2 separate regions of the Homo sapiens genome follow, and region 1 is linked to region 2. The links come from fine-mapping of genetic effects on gene expression. Tissue or cell type: whole blood. Region 2 holds a variant in brackets; the other region holds the start of a gene. All regions are shown on one strand. Distances are from middle to middle.

Region 1 (2,907 bases), 210 kb after region 2:
AAGTACATTTAATTGATTTTCTTTAAAATATTCAGCTGGGGTTTAAATTGAAATTACATAGAAATTATATATTAGTTTGGATAGACTTGACATCTTTATAAAATGAAATTGCCTCATCCAGGAACATGTATTGTGTCTTCATTTATTCAGATGATCTTTTTTTGTTTTTGAGACGGAGTCTTGCTCTGTCGCCCAGGCTGGAATGCAGTGGCACCATCTCAGCTCACTGCAACCTCTGCCTCTCAGGTTCAAGCAGTTCTCCTCCTCCTCAGCCTCCTGAGTAGCTGAGATTACAGGCGCGTGTCACCATGCCTGGCTAATTTTTGTATTTTCAGTAGAGATGGGGTTTCACCATGTTGGCCAGGCTGGTCTCAAACTCCTGACCTCAGGTGATACACCCACTTCGGCCTCCCAAAGTGCTGGGATTACGAGCATGAGCCACCGCGCCTGGCCTATTGTAATTTTTTTTTTTCAGACAACAGAAAAGTATAAAGGAGAAAGTAACAAACCATTAGTTACCTCCCCAGAGATAACCATTGATGACATTTCCTCCCCAACATTTTTCCCCCTATGGATACACATACATTTTTTCAAGATCTTGTTTCCTTTGATATGTCATTTTAGTGGCTTGAACTTATTTCTGGAACAATATATGGGTAAAGTCTATGCATATATGTATCTATGTATATATCTATCTATGGAAAACAAGTAGATATAGACAGTAAAATAAAGACAGAGACAAGACAGCGGTTGGAGAGATGAAAGGAGAGAAAGTCATAGACAAGGAGAGACATATGGGGAGAGGAAGACACAGAGAGAGCTGTGGGCACATAAGGGCAGAAAGATAAACACAGAGAGCCATGGAGAGATGAAAGTATTGGGCTGGGGCCAGGCATGGTGGCTCAACGCCTGTAATCCCAGCACTTTGGGAGGCCGAGGAGGGCCGATTGCTTGAGCTCAGAAGTTGGAGACCAACCTGGCAACATGACGAAACCCCATCTCTACAAAAATACAAAAATTAGCCAGGCGTGGTGGTGGGCACCTGTAGTCCCAGCTACTTGGCAGGCTGAGGCATGAGAATTGGTTGAACCCTGGAGGTGGAGATTGCAGTGAGCTGAGATCCGGCCACTGTCCTCCAGCCTGGAGGACACAGCGAGACACTGTCAGAAAAAAAAAAACACAAAGAGACAAGGAGAGGATGGAAAGGAGCATTTATGGAGCTCCTACTGAATGTCATTCTAAACCTCCAAGGTCACTTTGAGGGAGGCTGTCAGTAGTAACCCCTTTACGCCGCTGAGAGCCTGAGCCTTAGAATGGCCAACTGAGCTGTCCATGGTCACATCACCTAGATTGAACCCATCTCCCTGGCGCGGGCCGGGCCCACTGCGGGTGATCCATTAACTATTTATCTAATGAACAAACTAAAGTCCATCTCCTCCCCCAGGAAGAGAGATGAGGACCAGACCCCCATTCCACTCCACTGAGTCAATTTTTCTTGCCTGTTTTCCTGTCTACTAAGGTAACAGTAAGGTCGGTTGCCCCAGCAACTGCCCTCCGACTGCCATGGCAACCGCCAGCTCTCCACCTTGCCCTTTGGGCATCTCCATGGCGACGGGAGGTCTGGTGGGGCTGCCAGCTCCCCAGGCTGCGCCTGCGTCGGTCGGGTGGGTGGGGTGGGGGCGGGGGGGGGGGGGCCTGGTTCCGGGCGTGCGCAGCCGCAGAGCGCCGCAGCCTCGCCAGCTCGCCCCGGCACTGCGCACTTGCCAGCCAGTCCGCCCGTCCGGAGCCCGGCTCGCTGGGGCAGCATGGCGGGGTCGCCGCTGCTCTGGGGGCCGCGGGCCGGGGGCGTCGGCCTTTTGGTGCTGCTGCTGCTCGGCCTGTTTCGGCCGCCCCCCGCGCTCTGCGCGCGGCCGGTAAAGGTGCGACCCCAGTCCGGCGAGGGGTGGGGGTTGGGGGAGGATGCCACCGGCGAGGGTTGGGGTTGGGGCTGCGCCGCCTCACCCCCGCCCGAGCCGGCTCCCGGGACGTGCGGAGAGATCGACGAGGGTGGCCCGGGCTCCGGCCGCCGGTCCGCGCCCAGGCCACGCCGGCACACCTGAGACCTGACTTGGTCTCTGCCTGTGCGGGTGGCGTTGTCCGGGGCGCCGCCGGTAACCGTGCCCTGCCCACCTCTCCGTGCCCGGTGCCTGTGACGCTGTCCACGGCACTAAGGCGCTTTAAGAAAGGGCGCGCGCGCATCAGTGTGTGTGCGTGTGATGTGAGGAGAGCGGTGTGGAGGTGTCGTGTCCTTGAAAGTGTGTGTTCTTTGGTTTGAGCGCTTCCAAGTGTCCTAGAAAGGTGCCGTGGTGCGTCTGGGTGTGTAGTGTGTGTGATACCGGGATACTTCTGTGCGCGATTCTTTTGTGCGTCCGATTGTTTTCTCAGTGACACCGTGTGGATATTTGTGAATCCTTATTATGTGTGTTGGCTTGGCCTATGGGCGTGTCTCTCTCTCTCTCTCTCTGTCTCTCTCTCTCTGTGTGTGTGTGTGTGTGTGTGTGTGTGTGTGTGTGTGTGTGATTTCGTTTGTGTTTGAGAGGGAATGGTCTTCGCATCTCCGTGTGCACATTCCATAGTGGTTCTGTTGGACCAAGTGCCTGGGATTTCGTTTGCGTGTTCCTGAGACTGTTTCTCTCCGTTTCTTTGTGGAGCTGTGTCATCCTGAGGAGAGGAGCCATGATGTCTCTCTGCTGCATTGTGTCTTTAAGGATGGTGCATGTCCTTGCACCTGGGTGGCTTGGCGATTGTAACTGCAGGAGCAGCTGCGGATGTGAACGTGTGCAGGTCCTTGCATGTGGCTGTGGCAGTGTTGGGCTGTATATGTGACATCTCCAGGCCTGTCAGTCCTCATGAGTGTGTGTGAGGCTG
Region 2 (2,907 bases):
AACATGGTGAAACTCTGTCACTACTAAAAATACAAAAATTAATGGGGCATGGTGCAGCATGCCTGTAATCCCAGCTACTTGGGAGGCTGAGGCAAGAGATTCGCTTGAACCAGGAAGACGAAGTTGCAGTGAGCTGAGATCACACCACTGCACTCCAGCCTGGGTGACAGAGCAAGACTCTTTAAAAATAAAGAGTTCCTTGGCCGGATGCGGTGGCTCACACCTGTAATACCAGCACTTTGGGAGGCCGAGGCGGGCAGATCACGAGGTCAGGAGATCAAGACCATCCTGGCTAACACGGTGAAACCCCGTCTCTCCTAAAAATACAAAAAATTAGCCGGGCGTGGTGGCGGGTGCCTGCCTGTAGTCCCAGCTACTCGAGAGTCTGAGGGAGGAGAATGGCTTGAACCCAGGAGCCGGAGGTTGCAGTGAACCAAGATCACACCACTGCACTCCAGCCTGGGTGACAGAGTGAGACTTTGTCTAAAAAAAATTAATTAATTAAAAAAAAATTCCAGGGATTAGGACATAGGACATAAATATATTGGCAGGGGTGGAGGGGATTATTCAGCCTACCACAACATCTTATGACAGTTAACATCTGTTCCTTAAACCACCTTACAGAAGGCCGAACTCTATCTCTAAAAACCCATCTTCCTATATTCCCTCCAACTGTACCCCAAACCATCCTCCACCCATTAACCGTATTCCCAATCCACCCTCCCAATAGCTCCCACCTGCATTCTTAAACTGTCTTATTGAAGCCCCATTCCTCCCAAAGACCTTCAAATGATCCTTCAATTGCCTGCAAACTGTCCTGTTGTAGAACCCAAACTCACCCCCAAGCCACCTTCAATCACCACTCATATCTATCCCTAAATACCCCCAACTTCACCATCCAGCTGCCCTCCCACTTCGCTCCACATGTCCCCTTCACAGCACCTTGAAGTTGTCTTGCAGTGAAACCCCAGATAAGGTTGCAGTGAGCCGAGATCGCACCACTGCACTCCAGCCTGGATGACAGAGCGAAACCCTGTCTCCAAAAAAAAAGAAAGAAAGAAAGAAAGGAACTCCAACTATATGGCAGGGGTGCAAGTATTGAGAAAGTTGAGAATGAGATATTGATAGAAACTAGGGCCGGGCATGTGGCTCATGCCTTTAATCCCAGCGCTATGGGAGGCCGAGGCGGGCGGATCACTTGAGGTCAGGAGTTTGAAACCAGCCTGGCCAACATGGGGAAACCCTGTCTCTACTAAAAATACAAAAAAAATTAGCTGGCCGCGGTGGCGGGCACCTGTAATCCCAGTTACTTGGGAGGCTGAGGCAGGAGAATCGCCTGAACCCAGGAGGCAGAGGCTGCAGTGAGCCGAGATAGTGCCACTGCACCTCAGCCTGGGTGACAGAGCGAGATTCCATCTCAAAAAAAAAAAAAAAAGAGAGAGAGAAAAAGAAAAAAGAAGTCCGGGTGCAGTGGCTCACGCCTGTAATCCCAGCACTTTGGGAGGCCGAGGCAGG[C/T]GGATCACGAGGTCAGGAGATCGAGACCATCCTGGCTAACATGGTGAAACCCCGTCTCTACTAAACATACAAAAAAATTAGCCGGGCATAGTAGCGGGTGCCTGTAGTCCCAGCTACTGGGGAGGCTGAGGCAGGAGAATGGCGTGAACCCGGGAGGCGGAGCTTGCAGTGAGCCGAGATCGTGCCACTGCACTCCAGCCTGGGCAAGAGCGAGACTCTGTCTCAAAAAAAAAAGAAAAAGAAAAGAGAGAGAGAAACCCAGAAAGATGCAGGGTAGGCATATCATGCAGGGTGTCATGGGATATCACTTGTCATGGAGACATTTGAGATGCGTGTGTGAAGCTGGTGTTTGTAGGATTGGGATGTGTGACAAGATAATTACTCTGTGGCTCTACTGCTATAAATATTTGTTGCCAGTCTGTTGTAAGTCTTTTAACTTTGTAGCATCTTTCATCAGACAGTATGTAGTTTTATTTATTGATTAATTGATACAGAGTCTCATTCTGTCGTCCAGGCTGGAGGGTAGTGGTACAAACACGGCTCACTGCAACTTCAAACTTTCCAGGCTCAAGCGATCCTCCTGCCTCAGCCTCCCAAGTAGTTGGGACCACAGGTGTGCACCACCATACCTGGCTAATTTTTCTTTTCTTTTCTTTTCTTTTTTTTTCTTTTTTTCTGAGACAGAGTCTCACTTTGTCCCCAGGCTGGAGTGCAGTGGTGCAATCTCGGCTCACTGCAACCTCCGCCTCCTGGGTTCAAGAGATTCTCCTGCCTCGGCCTCCCAAGTAGCTGGGACTACAGGCCAGGCGCGTGCCACCATGCCCAGCTAATTTTTGTATTTTTAGTAGAGACGGGGTTTCACCATGTTGGCCAGGATGGCCTCAATCCCTTGACTTTGTGATCCTCCCGCCTCAGCCTCCCAAAGTGCTGGGATTACAGGCGTGAGCCACCATGCCCGGCCTAATTTTTTAAAAGTTTTTTTGTACAGACGGGGTCTCCCTATGTTTCCCAGACTAGTCTCAAACTCCCGGGCTCAAGCAATTCTCCCACCTTGGCCTCCCAAAGTGTTGGGATTACAGGTGGGAACCACCCCGCCAGACCCTCCTCTTTCTTCTTTTGTAAAATTAGCCATTCTTACATGTTTGTTTTTGTTTTTTTTGAGACGGAGTCTAGCTCTGTCTCCCAAGCTGGAGTGCAGTGGCACGATCTTGGCTCACTGCAACCTCCACCTCCCGGGTTCAAGCGATTCTTGTGCCTCAGCCTCCCTAGTAGCTGGGATTACAGGCGCACGCCACCATGCCTGGCTAATTTTTTTGTATTTTTAGTAGAGACAGGGTTTTGCCACGTTGGCCAGGCTGGTCTTGAACTTCTGACCTCAAGTGATCCACCTGC

Evidence for each region. PIP is the estimated chance that this variant, and not a neighbour inherited with it, causes the effect.
Region 1: PCSK1N starts here. The variant in region 2 is the best candidate, but not a certain one, in a credible set for the expression of PCSK1N in whole blood (TOPMed, PIP 0.85).

The regions. Positions count from the first base shown.
Region 1 is chrX:48,834,431-48,837,337 of GRCh38, reverse strand. PCSK1N (proprotein convertase subtilisin/kexin type 1 inhibitor) reads left to right here and starts at 1,728. Exons shown (of 3, transcript NM_013271.5): 1 at 1,728-1,919. The coding sequence starts at 1,806.
Region 2 is chrX:49,045,471-49,048,377 of GRCh38, reverse strand. No RefSeq gene overlaps it. Among named protein-coding and RNA genes, the nearest start is that of TFE3, 3.6 kb to the right of the region's middle. RefSeq lists a silencer at 848-1,041 and a cis regulatory region at 642-1,221. The variant C/T (reference allele first, on the strand shown) is at 1,516.